Regions from separate parts of the Homo sapiens genome. Here region 2 is linked to region 1. The links come from fine-mapping of genetic effects on gene expression. A gene starts in region 1. The other region holds a variant in brackets. All regions are shown on one strand. Distances are from middle to middle. Region 1 holds the start of ZFYVE1 (zinc finger FYVE-type containing 1). Region 2 overlaps DPF3 (double PHD fingers 3).

What was found.
Region 2: its variant is fine-mapped to the expression of ZFYVE1 in CD4 T cells (CEDAR, PIP 0.95).

What each region holds. Positions count from the first base shown.
Region 1 is chr14:73,022,208-73,030,547 of GRCh38, forward strand. It overlaps ZFYVE1 (zinc finger FYVE-type containing 1), which reads right to left and starts at 4,899. Exons shown (of 12, transcript NM_021260.4): 1 at 4,719-4,899; 2 at 1,819-2,735. The coding sequence starts at 2,301. RefSeq lists a silencer at 4,602-4,811 and an enhancer at 5,042-5,241.
Region 2 is chr14:72,752,967-72,761,306 of GRCh38, forward strand. It overlaps DPF3 (double PHD fingers 3), which reads right to left. Exons shown (of 11, transcript NM_001280542.3): 3 at 298-405. Among named protein-coding and RNA genes, the nearest start is that of DPF3, 140 kb to the right of the region's middle. The variant A/AAAGG (reference allele first, on the strand shown) is at 3,903.

The DNA.
Region 1 (8,340 bases):
ACTCTATTCGATCCTCTCAAACCAATAAAGAAAATCTGTGTTAGCAAAGTATTAACATGACAATGGAAGTATACAGGAATCATGATGTAACTCATTTCCATCAGCTTTATCCAAGAAGGAAAAAAGTACAGAAGAAAAATATTAGGTGGGTAATTAGGCAGCCTCTCAAATGGTAACTTACATAGGTACTCCCCTCCAAACTGGAAACCTAAGGAGTCACCACCATCAAAAGTACTGAGTCAGTGGACCACAGATACTCCAGTGATACTGACTACAACAAACTGGTACTGGATACTATGTGCCAGACTGTGATAAAAATCATTTAAGCTGTGCCTCAGTTTCACTGGTACTTCACAGGATTGTTGATAGGACTCAAAAAGATTAGGAATGGAAAGGATTTTTATCACTTACCCTTGGCTATATAGTGATTGGTAAACAAGTATGTGAATTCAAGCAAACTTCACTTGAAAGCCCACTCAAAAGAAAAGTATAGACATTACACTACCTTCATTCAAAAGTATAAACATTATACTACCCCTTCCCCAATCTCACCTAGCTGTCACAACACTACCATCTCCCCAACTCAGACTCAAGCCAAATATCCCCTAGTCATTCTGTACTCCCAGATGCCCCTCACTGGCTTTTACTGATCAGAAACCTATACAAGAAAATATGAAGAGACCAGCCAATCGCGCCTGTAATCCCAGCACTCTGGGAGGCCAAGGCGGGTGGATCACTTGAGGTCAGGAGTTCAAGATCAACCTGGCCAACATGGTGAACCCCCGTCTCTACTAAAAATTCTAAATTACCAGGCGTGATGGCACATGTCTGTAATCCCAGCTACTTGGGAGGCTGAGGCAGGAAAATCGCTTGAATCCAGGAAGTAGAGGTTGCAGTGAGCCAAGATGGCACCACTGCACTCCAGCCTGGGTGACAGAGCGAAATTCCATCTCAAAAAATATATATATATATATATATATATATATTTTATATATGTTTTATATATAATATATATTTTATATGTTTTATATGTAATATATATATTATATGTTTTATATATAATATATATTATATATGTTTTATATATAATATATATTATATATGTTTTATATATAATATATATTATATATGTTTTATATATAATATATATTATATATGTTTTATATATAATATATATATTTTATGTGTTTTATATATAATATATATTTTATGTTTTATATATATTATATATATATTTTATATATGTTTTATATATATAATATATATATGAAGAGACCATCTGGAAAGAATATTGTCCTTATTAAAAGCCACTTTTTAAATCAAGATAACAGGTTTATGCCTTATTAGCTAGCACTCCCATGGGACCCACTGTTAGTGTGTGTTTCCCTGGATAGGTGCAGTCCCGCATCACTAACATTTACTCACAGCTTGCCAGGGTGCTCTCATTCTGAAATGTTTTAAATCAGTTTGTTCTAATAATAATGCTACAATTAATACTAACAACAGCTACCGTATACACTGACCATTTATTATGCGACAGGCTCTACAAACACTGTCTCATTTCAACCTCACAACTCGATGAAGTAGGCTGTCCCCCATTTTATAGATGAAAAAGCTAAGGCTCAGAAAAGTAAAGTAATTCGGCCAGAGGTCATGCAGCTGGTAACTAAATCTGACTCCATGCAACTAAAGCCTCCAGAGGTCTTGCCTTTTAATGATTAAAATGTGATCTCTTCTTGGACATCGTTTTTTGAGAGCTGGCTTCCAACAACAGATCTGCTCCACTACACATGAATCCCACTATACCCGTGTGCTTACCTGAATTTCTTCATTTTCGTCTACTAGGAGGAAACTCACAACCTTCTCAGTCATCTTCTTCCTCTTGGTCTCCTCATCCATCTCTTCTGCCTCCAGTGACTCCTGGAGATTACTGACATTGTACACAGTAACAGGGTGTCTCCTTTTGTTACCCCCAGAATGAGTCCTCTTCTGGCACTCCAGGCACAAGTTAATTTTGCAGGTCTGGCACCTCACTATTGCCCTCTGCCTAACACCTGGTAAATGCCCACTGAGACCCTTGCAGAGGTCACAGTAAGGGACATGGCCAGGTTTGAGTCTTATCCGCTCATGGTTTCTCAGGCGCTCCTGCCGATGGAGCTCCTCCTCGCAGCGGAGACACTGCAGACTGCAGCACTCATCACACTCAAAGATAGCTTCATCAGTCCCGCTGCAAGCGTAACTTTCCTGGCACATCAGCCCCGGATTCAGGCCCTTCTCTGCTGGGGAAGTCTGGGCACTCATACTCACGCTGGTAAGGAAACACACCCACCATATAATAGTCACTGAGCTTGCCCCGGGGGTGAAGACGAAGATTTGAGTCTGAAGACTGCACGAAACTTCCACAGGGTTCTGAACACTTTAAAAAAGAACACCTTTCATGTCCTGTTATAGTTCTTCACAAACAAATGTTCAAATTTTTAATTTGCTGCCTCTAAGACTCTTGTATTAGCAGCAACGTTGATTTGGTTTGATGGTTTCATCCTCCATAAAGTGCAAGCAAAGATGTGGTCAAAATTGACTTGGAAGGGTCTTTTATGGCTATCTGAGAGAGGTCTGATGGGTTCACGGTGGTGGGTTCATCGGTTGGACATCAGCTACAAAGTTTTGGTAATGAAAGAAAGTGGTCAGGAGCTTTTCAATATAATTCGACCTGAAGTCAGTATTTCAGGGGATACCTAGAATAGAGGAAGGAAAAGGATTTCACTCATCTAAAAAACAGAAGTGCACCTTTAAAAAAATTTTTTTTGACTAAATTAAATATTAGCCCAGAACTGCTGAGAGAAATCTCATTCCTCTTTTTTTTCTTTTTTTTTTTTTTGAGACAGAGTTTTGCTCTTGCTGCCCAAGCTGGAGTGCAATGGGACAGTCTCGGCTCACTGCAACCTCCGCCTCCCGGGTTCAAGCGATTCTCCTGCCTCAGCCTCCCAAGGAGCTGGGATTACACGCGCTAGCCACAATGCCCAGCTAATTTTTGTATTTTTAGTAGAGACGGGGTTTCACCATGTTGGCCAGGCTGGTCTTGAACTCTTGACCCCAGGTGATCTGCCCGCCTTGGCCTCCCAAAGTGCTGGGATTACAGGCGTGAGTCACCGCACCTGGCCAGAAATCTCATTTTCTATCTTAACACTTACACTGGCTTGTTGTATAGCCAGGCGCAGTGGCTCACACCTGTAATTCCATCACTTTGGGAGGCCGAGGTGGGCAGATCACTTGAGGTCAGGAGTTCGAGACTACCCTGTCCAACATGGTGAAATCCCATCTCTACTAAAAATACAAATATTAGCTGGGCATGGTGGCAGGCACGTGTAATCCAAGCTACTAGGGAGGCTGAGGCAGGAGAATCACTTGAACCCAGGAGGCGGAGGTTGCAGTGAGCCAAGATCTTGCCACTGCACTCCAGCCTGGAAGACAGGGCAAGACTCCCTCAAAAAAAAAAAAAAAAAAAAAAATCTCAAAATTGTGGCTAAAGCTCCTCCTCTTGACAACAAACGCCACCTCTAGGCCCAAGGCATTTAAGAGACTTTGCTGCTCTATTTCCCAGACTGGAATTTTCTGTTCATTCAGATATTAAATTCAGAATCTAAATCACTAAGTGAGTAGTCCTTGGAAGGACAGCCCTCTGCACCCCCACATGCATCCCACAATTGGGAGGAGTGGAGAGGCCTTCACAAAGCTAATGAAAATGTAATAATAAACTTTAGATCTATCAAATACCTGGGCCGACCTGGTTAGCCTTGTAACTGGATTGTTTCAACTCTAGCTAGATGTATATTAAAGACTCAAAACTTAGAAACAATAGTAACAATTTCATCTTTAAAAACAATTTTTTTACACTGTAATTCTTCTGTCCCTTCTTTCACTAACTGAAAAAAAAAAAAAAAAGGAGCAACAGGAGACAATTCCTCTACTTTGACCCATGGCAAAGCCAGGCCTGCAGTGAATCAAAACAAATAATTTTTCTCTTTGTCACTTAAAAACTAACTTAAAAATAACTTCAAAATACGAAAAAAGATAACTGGGGCAAGAAAGGGGCTTTTGTCACTTTGACAATTATATTCCTAATTCCCCCTAGCCTTGACCCGCATTCCAAGGCCCCGACAAGGTGTAAAGCCCTGCCTTTCTGATAGTCACTCCTCCCCTACAGTAATCAATCTATCAACCTTATTTTCAGATAAACAAGGAAGGCGAAGGGAGTGACTAGGGGATCTTATTTACTACAATCTAACCTCAGACATGCCCAGCCAGCTCCCAAAACAGAAACAAAAATCAAACTTGTCACAATTGAGAAAAATATAAAATCAACCTTCAAAAGTACACCTCACGCCCGGCCATGTCAACCAAACATTTTGCCCACTCGGGCCCCCACCTCGACACCTCTCCCCAGCCGGGGGTTCCTCACCCTTCCTTCCACCCGGACACCACCGCCACAACCCGAGGGGCAGGAGCGGAGCCTAAGAACAAAGAAGGTCCCCCAAAATCCCCCCCACGCCGGCAAAACCCGGAGCCGAATCCATTGTTTATACCACCCCACCCCCACCCCCGCCGCACCCGCCCCCCCTTCCTCCCGAGGGCAGCCTGAGCCCCAGGACGATCACTCGCCCCGCGCTGGGCCGTGCCCTCCCCGCCCTGCCCTGCCCGCCGCGGCCCGGGGATCCCACCACTGAGAAGCTCGGCCGCAGCAAGGCGGCGTCGGGGGGCCGCAGGGCGCCAGTGGGGGCAGAGGCTATTCCTCAGGACACCGGCAGATCCATCCTCATCTCCATCTCCGCCACCCTCCTCCTTCGTTGCCTCCCGGGCTTCCTCCTCTCCTGTTGTCAGTTGGGATCAGCTGATCGGAGTGAACTTCTCCCAGCTCGGACTAACAGGAAGGCGTGAGCGGTGCAGCCCAGAAAGGGAGGAGCGAGAGAGGGAGGATCCCGGCGCCAGCAAGGGCGTAGTGCGCACTGCCTCCTGGGAGATGTAGCTCCTCGAGGCGCGCTCTCGCCCCTCATCCCGGAAAGGAAGACTCTGAATGACTACAACTCCCAGTACTGAAGAGGCTGCTCTTGCGAGGAGGCGGTGGGGACAGGCTACGGAGGATTTCGGGACTTGGAGTTTTTGCATTGAGTGTGGTGTCCGCAGGTTTCAGCACGTTCTTTTGGGTTGTAACTGGGGAAGGCATGGTGCTACATTAGAGAACTGATGTAATAATGTCTAGTATAAGTGGGAAATGGTGAGTCAATTAATTTGGATTCAAGTAACCTCTTGCACACCATTCCCTCAGAAACGTGTGAGCACAGACAGTCTCCACCTTCCCAATTTCACTTCGCAAAAACTAAGGAAAAGACCAGAAAAAGTGATAAGAGGATATAGGTACTCTTGGGAAGTTTTTGTTGTTTTTCCCCCCTTGGCAAAGGACAAAATTACAACGAATTTAGTTTTAAGATCTCAGTTGGCTTTATTGCGACTCTAGGATCAGGCAACACTTCATTCCAGAAAGTGGAGTGAATGTTCTGATGAGCTGAGCAGGAGAGGTTGGCTTTGTAGACAGAGAAAAGCTTGAGGAAGCAAAAGCAAAGAACAAAGAGCATATTGGTTTCTTTCTTTCTCTTTCTTGTCATTCTTTTCTTTCCTCTTTCTTCTCTTTTTTTCAGTCTTCTCATGGGACCTTGACATATTGGTCACTTCTAAGCTACTTTCCTTGGAAGGTGAGGACAGAGAGACAGAACAATAGAAAAATAACTGATTAGTTGACATCAGTTACTTCAGGCTACTTCTTTTGTGTAAGGATTACAACAGAGGGAGCTTCATTATCATGCAACATTAAAACAAGCCTGTTTGGGAAACTGGCTGTCCTTATCCCTCTTTCCTGATTTCTCTGAAGGTCAGATAACAACTTAGCTTGGGTTTGGTAACAACTTAGTTTGGATTTGGTGAGGTGAAACTTTAGCATGGGTGACTCCATTTTTATTTTAGCCAGGTCTATTGGGGCCTGGTGCAGGAGTTTAGTCCAAAACAAAGGCCTCCTATCATTTTTACTTAACACCCTTCAAGGGTATTCTCCAAGCCAACCATGAATTTTTTTTCCTACCTATTATTTTTCTGATCTTTCCTTCTATAGTTTCAGAACTTCTCAGGCTGGGCGCGGTAGCGCATGCCTGTAATCCCAGCACTTTGGGAGGTCGAGGTGGACGGATCACCTGAGGTCGGGCGTTCGAGACCAGCCTGACCAACATGGAGAAACTCCATCTCTACTAACAGATACAAAATTAGCCGGGCGTGATGATGCATGCCTGTAATCCCAGCTACTCGGTAGGCTGAGGCAGGAGAATTGCTTGAACCTGGGAGGCAGAGGTTGCAGTAAGCCGAGATCACGCCATGGCACTCCAGCCTGGGCAACAAGAGGGAAACTCTGTCTCAAAAAAAAAAAAAAAAAAAAGCTATTATACTTTCAGAACTTCTCAATTTGAAATTATCTTTGAGGGCCAGGCACGGTGGCTCATGCCTGTAATCCCAGCACTTTGGGAGGCCAAGGAGAGCGGATCATGAGCTCAGGAGTTCAAGACCAGCATGGCCAACATAGTGAAACCTCATCTCTACTAAAAATACAAAACATTAGCTGGGTGTGGTGGTGTGCACCTGTAATCCCAGCTACTCGGGAGGCTGAGGCAGGAGAATCACATGAACCCGGGAGGCAGAGGTTGCAGTGAGCCAAGATCGCACCATTGCACTCCAGCCTGGGCAACAGTGCAAGACTCTGTCTCAAACAAGAAAAAAAAAAAAAGAAAGAAATTTTCTTTGCGTTAGATGGGCTAAATTTTCAGATAAGTTTTCAGGCTACAGTGCAGGCTAATGGTTAACATTTATCAGGCTTTTTTTTCTTTTTTTATGGCCTTATATTTGTTTAGTGCTTTCACTTTTTGTTTGTTTCTTGAAACAACATTGAAAGAAAGCCTGAGTCTGTGTTGCCAAAGATTGACTGCTTGCTCTAGAAAAGCTCCTGAAGGCCTGGTGTGGTTGTTCCTGTGTGTAATCTCAACACTTTGGGAGGCCAAGGCACGCAGAGCACTTGAGGTCCTGGCCAACATGGTGAAACCATGACTATACTAAAAATACAAAAAATTAGCTGGGAATGGTGGCATGTGCCTGTAATCCCAGCTACTCTGGAGGCTGAGGCAGGAAAATCACTTGAACCCCAGAGGCAGAGGTTCCAGTGAGCCAAGATTGTGCCACTGCACTCCAGCCTGGGCAATGGAGCAAAACTCCATCTCAAAAAAAAAAAAAAAAAAAAAAGAGGCTGGGCGCAGTGGCTCACGCCTGTAATCCTAACACTTTGGGAGGCTGAGGCGGGTGGATTGCCTGAGCTCAGGAGTTCAAGACCAGCCTGGGCAACATGGTAAAAACCCATCTCTACTAAAACACACACACACACAAAAAATTAGCCAGGCATGGCGGCGTGCACCTGTAATCCCAGCAACTAGAGGGACTGAGACAAGAGAATCACTTGAACCCGGGGGTTGGAGGTTGCAGTGAGCCGAGATCGTGCCATTGCACTCCAGCCTGGGTGACAGAGTGAGAGACTCCATCTCAAAAAAAAAAAAAAGAAAGAAAGAAAGAAAACGTCCTGACTATACAGGTGGTTGGGTAAGTCACTCAACCTCTCCACAAAATAGAAATTGTAATTAATGAAGTCCCTGCCAATTCCAACATACTATGATTCTATCTTGATAATTGTTAACCCAGAAGAGAAAACTAAGATTAAGTGACTTGCCAGGGTTACACAACAAATTATTGACAAATCTGGGACAAGACTGTATCTGCTGACTTGAAGTCCAATACTTTTTACCTTATGATTCCAGGGACATAAGTAAACCACTAGCAAAATCAAATCTACATAATAATGACCCATATATGAGGATTAAATTGCTGAAAATTATATTTTCAATATTGGGCAGAGAGCCAATGGTTGGATTATGAAACATGGCTGAGAAATTGTTTTCTAAAAACAACTTCTAGGGCCGGGCGCAGTGGCTCATGCCCGTAATCCCAGCACTTTGGGAGGCCGAGGCAGGTGGATCACGAGGTCAAGAGTTCAAGACCAGCCTGGCCAAGATGGCAAAACCCTGGCTCTACTAAAAATACAAAAATTAGCCGGGCCTGGTGGCGGGCGCCTGTAATCCCAGCTACTCAGGAGGCTGAGACAGGGAATTGCTTGAACCCAGAAGGCAGAGGTTGCAGTGAGCCAAGATCGCACCACTGCCCTACAGCCTGGGTGACAGAGTGAGACTCCGTCTCAAAAAA
Region 2 (8,340 bases), 270 kb before region 1:
TCAGTTCTGTTGGGAAATTCATCCTGCACCTGGGCTGGGGTGCAGCCTTTCTTTCCTCCCTGGGGTGGCAAAGGGAAGGCATGAGACACCCAGAGGGGAGAAAAGCTCAGGTGGACACGTGGTCATGTTTCTACTCAGCAGGCACAGAGGTGCACCCTTAAGCATGATGTGGGCATGTTCCCTCTCCCAGAAAACTTAGCTCTATGGACAAAGGAGCAAACCAACCTTGTCCTGGGCCCAGCCCAGTCCTCCCACCTTTCCCATCACAGACCCAGCCAAGCTCCAGAGGGCACTGACCAGGTTTTATCTCCAGCAGCCGCAGTTTTGGATCTTCAGGTGGGTGCAATCGTCTCTTCTTGCGCCAGCAGCGGGCAGGGTATGTATACAGCTGGCCCGGGGCAAGGCCTGTGGACAGAGACAATATAAAGATTAAAGGCTCCAGGCTGGAAGGGGCCTTGGAAACTACCCTGACTAACCCCGTCATTCACAAGGAGAGGAAGCTGAAGCCCAGAGAGAAGTGACTTGTCAACATCACAAAGCTGATTGCTAGTGGTGGCAAGGCTGAATCTAGGTCATCTGACCCCAGGACCCTGGCTCTGTCAGCTCCACCATGCTGTTCAGCAAGCCCATGCCAACGAGAGCCATTGCCTTCACCAAAACCAATTCTGCTCTCCTGCCTGGAGAGATCACCAACTGGACCTTCAGACAAGAAGGACCTTTGCAGTGTCTCCAAAGCAGTGGATCTCTATCCACTGCCCCTCTATCCTGATCCAGGTTAAGCAGGTTCCCTTCAAAACGGAGCAGCAGTCAGTTGGCCTACTGTATGGACAGCCTGGGTTGAGAAGCATCGCAAAGAGACAGAACCAAAAACACTAGATCTACTCAAAGGCGTCTCCCACCCACTCCCAGCTGCTGGCAGCTCACTGTAGGCAAATGGAGGCTTGTGTAGCCCCCATGAGAACATAAACCCACTCTGGTGACCAGGCCACATGACCTGCAGAGCCCGCACACCTCTATATCCCCGCCTACATGCCTGGGCCTTACAAAAAAAAAAAAATAGGCAGGAGGCCAGGGGCTGGGCTTACGTGCCACCCTGTGTGTGTGGCCTTTGACACCAACAGCATCACTGTCATGCCAAGCACCATGAGGAGCCTTCCTGCTCACCCGACAACAATTGTGTGTGGCTCTGGTGGCAGCCACGGGCCTTAGAGGAACAGGGACTTCTCCATGCCAGGTCACAGACTATTCCCAGGGAAATGGGGCGGGGAAGAGGCTGAGGGGTGAGGAGGCAGGTATTTGAGACTGGCTAGGTAATTTTCAGACTGGCTAGGTGATTTGTAGTCCTGAAGAGAGTGTCTGATACCCCCCATAATAAACCAGCAAGCCAACAAATCCCTAATAGGAAGAAAAGCCTAATGAAGACAGGGACTTTTTTGTCTTGTTCTTGTCAGAAGCCCCAGAATCAGAACTGTGCCTGACACAGAGCAGAACCAAACTAAATACTCATTGAATTAATGAATGAATATATTGCAGCTTCCTTTAAAATCACAACTCTGTCTTCTGCAGGTAAATGTGGCACATGGCAGCTGTTGGACGCAGGCGGCCTACCACAAAAGTGTCACTGTGCACACCTAGGACCATGGATTCAGAAAACATCAGCACCTGATTCCCATCTGCCGTCTTCCATTTTAGGGCCCTTAAAAGTTAAGAAGGGAAACTGGCTTCATTTTTCACCTTTGCAGAGAAAATCTATGTAACTTTCATTGCTATATACTCATTCATTCATTTTCATTTTTACCAGTCAACTCTACCCATTTATTGGGATGGGGCCAAAACAAAGTCAATTATCCCAGCATTAAAGGAACCAAAATACTCAGGTCTCTTTATGTTTAATCACACAGCTGCTCCACAGGTCACAAGATTGTGAACAAGTTGGAGGTTCTGACCACCCCACCCCTTTGGTTCTTAGAAACTAGAACTGACCTGGACTCAGAAATGTCAGAATTGAATGACCATTGGCCCTGCTGTTCCTGGCTCCAGGGGACTCATCCACCCAGATCCAAAGCATCCAAGAGGGACTCCAGAAGTGGAGGCCCAGGCCTGAGGCCAGAGCCCCCTGCACCCCCTCTCCCACCATGGCCATCTCTGGGCCTTAGGTTTCCTTCGTTCCCCAGTGGCTGCTTTACGGTGCTTCCAACCTAATCAAACACAGGTAAGTAAGAGTGAGCTGGCCCCCACCAGCACCCTCCAAAGGTCTACGTGGCAAGAGTGCAAAAGTGTCCACACTTGTCCAGGTCCTACACCCTCCCTGAGACAGCAGTCACTGTGCTTGGTGGTCAGCGGTACCAGAGAAGCCCCAGGCCACTCTGCTTGGAGCTTTAGACCCATTCTTCTGGGAGAATTCATTTTAGCAACTAGTTTGAATCTCCAGAAGAAGGGGCTGTTTTTGTTCCATTCTTTCTCTGCTGGATTGGAGACACTCTGCAGTGCAAAGGAAGAGCACGTGAGTCCTGGGAAGCATCCTAACACCTTTCTGAGCCTATTGCCTCACCTGTAAGATAAGGGCATTGATAACATTAATACCTACCTCCTGGGGCTGTTATGGGGATTTGCTTATATTCAAGAGAAAGCTCTCTATATCCACAAAGATGACAAATGTCAGTTGTTAATTGTCATGAGTTAGCTGACCTAGTCTTGGACTCCACACTCATGCAACATGACAGACCCCCTGCCCCATCCACCATGCTGCCACTTGGTTCTTTAGCCATGAAGGTGGAAACAGGCTTCTTTTTGATGTCTGCTTTGAATCCACCTCATCACAACAAGCAAATGGTCGCAAGAGCTCTCTTGGAGCTCCCTGGCCCCTTCCTTGCCCTCCTCAACAGGCTGACAGGCACCAGGGTTCCTTTATAGGAAAAACACGTTCAGCCCTGGAGTTCCACTTACAGAGGGAAGAGCAGGGCCCCATGAGACTTATGTTGTTTATCTCAGAACAGGAGGCAGATAACTCAAAGCATGTGTGTGTGTGCATATGTGTGCGTGCATGTGCATGTGTGGTAGATGGAGGTGGGGAAGGAGGATGGAGTCACAGCTGCTGTCAGGGAAATTAACCTTGGGGAGTGAGCCTAGGGCTGGGGAGGGGACATGAAGGAGGGGAAACAAGTGGCCAAAGACAAGAGGGGAAACCAGTCCTCCCTGGTAACCAAGGCCACTGCCACCCCTCACTTCACATACCCCACTGAGCAAACTACTTTTCTGTTACTTTGAGCTGCAACTCGAGCTACAACATTCCTGCCCATGTGTAAGCACAAATGTGATGCACAAAGACACACACACACAATCAAAAACTCACACACTTGCTGGGAGAACTGGCTCCATGGAAATACCTGGCATTGAAAGGCTTGATGCCTTTATGGTTAGCAGACTCCAGACAAATACAGCTGGTTATGCACATTGCACAAGTTCAGCAGGTGGATCCTGAGGGTTCTGGGCATCTCTCACAGACAAAGCATGAGCTATTCAGAATTTAGAAGATGAAATGGGAGAGAAAAGAGAGGGAAGAGTGGCCGGGTACAGTGGCTGACGTCTGTAATCCCAGTACTTTGGGAAGCCAAGGCCAGCAGATCACTGAAGCCCAGGAGTTCAAGACCAGCCTGGCCAACATGGTGAAACCTCATCTCTATCAAAAATACAAAAATTAGCCAGTATGGTGGCGCATGCCTGTAATCTCAGCTATTCGGGAGGCTGAGGCAGGAGAATTGCTTGAACCCAGGAGGTGGAGGTTATAGGAGCTGAGGTCATGCCACTGCACTCCAGCCTATATGACAGAGCAAGATTCTGTGAAAGAAAGAAAGACAGAAAGAAAGAAAGAAAGAAAGAAAGAAAGAAAGAAAGAAAGAAAG[A/AAAGG]AAGGAAGGAAAGAAGGAAAGAAAGAAAGAAAAGAAAAAAAGAAAGAAAGAAAGAAAGAAAGAAGAGAAGAGAAGAGAAAGGGAGAGGGAAAGAGGGGGAGAGAGGGAAAGAGGGGGAGAAGGGGAGAGAGGGAGAGAGGAGAGAAGAGGGGAAGAAGGGGAGAGAGGGAGAGAGGGACAGAGGGGGAGAAAGGGGGAGAGGAAGGAAGGAAGGAAGGAAGGGAGGAAGGGAGAGAGGGAGGGAGGGAGGGAGGGGAGAAGAATGATATGGGATAGGAACAGCAATTGAAATGGGGAAGAAAAAAACTGAAGTAGTTTCATCTTTCCCCATCCAGAGCTGAACTGTGGCAGTTCAAGCCCCCCAGGGAAAGGCTCTCTCTCTGCAGGATCTCAGAGAGGTGGACCCACAGCTGCCCCTGAAACTTCCTTTCAATGGAGAATTTATTATGTCACAGGACACAGTGTCCCACTGTCGGCCAACTCTTACTGTGATAAAGAGATTCACCATGACCTTATTTTGAATCAAAATCTATCTCCCTATAAGTTATACCAATTTGTCCACCCTCTGTTCCAACAGCAAACAGCTACATCCCAATCCTGCATCCCATATATCTGCTTGGGTTTGAAGGGCAGCTAACCAAGAAGCCGAGGAACTAAAGAGGAATAAGAGTTGTAGGAAAGAGTTAGTGACTACCCCTGCTCAGAACCGGGTAACAGGATCAAAGTTTCCAAATAGAAAATGACAATACAACAATTTAAAATACAATTTAAAAAAATACAATATAATACCTATTTACATAGCATTTACATTGTATTAGGTATTATAAGCAATCTAGAAATGATTTAAGGAATATGGGAGAATGTGTGTAGGTTATATGCAAATACTATGCCATTTTATATAAGGGACTTGAGTACCCACAGATTTTGGTATCTTCTGGGGTCCTAGAACCAATTCCCAGTGGATACTAAAGGATGGCTGTTATGTATATAACATACTATCATTTATTTAACAAATGGGGATACACACATATTCAGACAAATATATGTGTGTGGTGTGTTTGCATGTTTTTTTTTATGGGGGTATAAGCCAAAAGCTAAAAAAAATTACCTAGAGAGAGAGCAAAAATAAAATAATAGTAGCAAGAAAAAGAGAAGGACGAAGAGGAAATTGCCTATACGAAAAAGAAACAGGGTAAAAGTGAAGATACAGTTAGACTTTCTCATAATATACCATTGGAACAATGCAAATATTTTACACAATTATAAAGTAAAATTAAATTAAAATAAAAAGCATACATCCGTTTCTGACTAAAATGGAGTATAAAGACCAGATTTAGCTCCCACCTAAAACCAAAAGAGAGGAAGAAAAAAATCAACAACAGTTTTGAAGACAATGAACATCAGGCATTGAAGGACAGTGATCCCTGAGACACTGAAAACAAGCAAGATAAGCCCTGTGATTGCCCCAGCTTACAGCCTTAAGAGAGTCTCCAGACTGGAACACAAGGAGGAGGAATACAGGTGGAGACCTGCAGATTCCCCACGTTTGAGTTGAAGAGAAAATGCCAAGAGTCTGAGGAGACCACAGTGACTAGAACCCAAGGAACTGAAGGGTAAACAAAAGAGAGCTGCACAGAGAATGTGGAGATCCAGAGGGTCCCTTTCAAGTATTCAGCTTAGCGTTGATCCATTTATGCCTGTGAGGAAACTAGATAGGACTGGGAAAAGAACTACCCAAAAAGATTAGAGGTAACAGCGCTCGGTGTGCACAAGGGGGCGGAAATAGTCTGTTTCCACCAGCCAATATGGAAAACTGTATGATTCCCGGGGTACTGGGTAGAGTACAGTAGAAAGATCTTGCCTCACTAATAGGGAATACTTAGCCCTAGACTAAGTACTGCTCTGGCTCCACCTAACAAATCTTAAAAGCAAGACAAGAAAACATCAAACTGTTTTCAAATAACTTAAATATGTCCCAAAACAATGTTCAAGAACATTTATAGGAATAAAATATATCTACAGCATTCAGCAAGGTAAAATTCACAATGTGAGGCACCCAACCCAAAATTACAAGGCATGTAAAGAAGCTGGAAAATATGACTTATAATAAGGAGAAAAATCAATCAATTGAAACCAACCCAGAACTGAAACTGATATTAGAATTAGTAGCAAGAACATTAAAACATTATTTGTATGCTCTGTGTTCAAGTTTAGTAAAAATTTGGGAGATACATATGTATTTTTAAGACTCAAATTTAACTTCTAGAAATGAAAACTATAATGTGCAAGATGAAAATCATATCAGAGGGAGTTAATGTCAGATTAGATATTGCAGAAGAAAAGACAGATAAACTTGAAAACACAGCAATAGAAACTATTCCAAAATGAAACCCACAGGAAAAAACAGAAAAGAAAAAAAAATAATGGCATAAATGAGCTGTGGGGCAACTTCAAACAGCCTAATATATGTGTAATTGAAGAAAGGGAAGAAAAAATATTTGTAGAAATAATGGCTGGAGGCTGGGTGCAGCGGCTCATGCCTTTAATCCCAACACTTTGGGAGGCCAAGGTGGAAGAATGCCATAAGCCTGGGAGTTTGAGAGCAGCCTGGGCAACATAGTAAGATCCTGTCTCCACAAAAGAGAGAGAGAGAGAGAGAGATGAAAGAGAGACAGAGAGAGACAGAGAAAGGGAGGAAGGGAGAGAGGGAAGAAAGGGAAGGAAGGAAGGAAGAAAGAAAGAATTTAAAAAGAAATAAGGGCTGGAAATTTCTGAAATTTGATGAAAACTATAAACCCATAGGTCTAAGCAGCTCAATAAAGCTAGGTACAATAAACATTAAGAAAACTACAGCAAAGTATGTCATAATCAAAACTGCTCAAAAATAGTGATAAAGAGAAAATATTAAAAGCAACCAGAGAAAGGAAACATGTTAACATATACAGGAACATTCTTATCTTTGCAATGCAAGCAAGAAAAGAGTGGTTCAACATCCCTACAATACTGAAAGGGAAAAAAAAACTTGTCAAACTAGAATTCTATACCCAGCTAAAATATCTTTCAAGAACTAAGGCAAACTAAAGATAGTTTCAGATATACAAAAGCTGAAATAATTCATCATCAACAAACCCACACTCTAAGAAATGTTAAAAAGAAGTACTTTAGGCAGAAGGAAAGTAATACCAGACCTAAATTTGGATCTACACAAAGGAATGAACAGCATCAGAAATGGTCTAGTACATGAATAATTATACGAGATGTTTTTCTTATTATTTTAAACTCATTAAAAGATGATCAACTATTTTTAAAAATACAATGATGGCCGGGCGCGGTGGCTCATACCTGTAATCCCAACAATTTGGGAGGCCAAGGCAGGCACATCACCTGAGGTCGGGAGTTCGAGAACCGCCTGACCGACATGGAGAAACCCCATCTCGACTAAAAATACAAAAATTAGCCAGGCATGGTGGCGCATGCCTGTAATCCATCAACACATCTACTCTGACTCTGAACTCCTCCTGCCTTCCTTTTATAAGAACCCTTGTGATTACATTAGGCCCACCTGGATAATCCAAGATTATCGCACCATCTCAAAATCCTTAATCCTGTCTTCGAAGTCCCTTTTGCCATGTAAGGTAACATACGCACAGATTTCAGTAATTAAAATGTGGATGTCTGAGGTGAGGAGGGGCCTTATTCTATTAATCACAGTACTATTGTAGACTCCTTATACTATTCATGAAATAGAATAATATAATTTGAAAGTTAACTATAATTAAAGATGTACACTATAAACACTAAGCAATCACTAAAATAACAACAAAACAAGAGTTATAGTTAATAAACCAACAAAAAAGAGAGAAAACATAATCACATTAAATGTAAATTGCCTAAATACCCCTACTTAAAAAAGATTGTCAGATTACATGTAAAAAGCATAACACAACTATATGCTGCCTATTAAAAAACTACTTTTAATATAAAGATGCAAATAGGCAAGAAGTAAAAGAATGGAAAAAGATATTTCATGTTAATATTAATCAAAAGAGAGCTGGAGTGGCTATATTGGAATTAGACAAAGGAGATTTCAGATAAAATAATATTAATAGAGATTAAGAGGATTATTTTATAATGATAAAGGAATCAATTTATTGAGGATATAACAATACTAAATGTTTATACACCTAATAACAAAGCTTCAATATACATGAAACAAAAAGTAATAGAATTGTAAGGAGAAATAAGCAAACCCACAATTATAGTCATAAGTTTCAATACCCTACCTCTCAATGATTCATAGAATAAATAGAAAATAAGGATGTAGAAGATTTAAAAAACATTATCAACCAATTTGACCTAATTGATATTTATAGAACATTCCAAACAACAACAGCAAAACACAATTCTTTTCCTGAGCAAACAGAATATTTACCAAGGT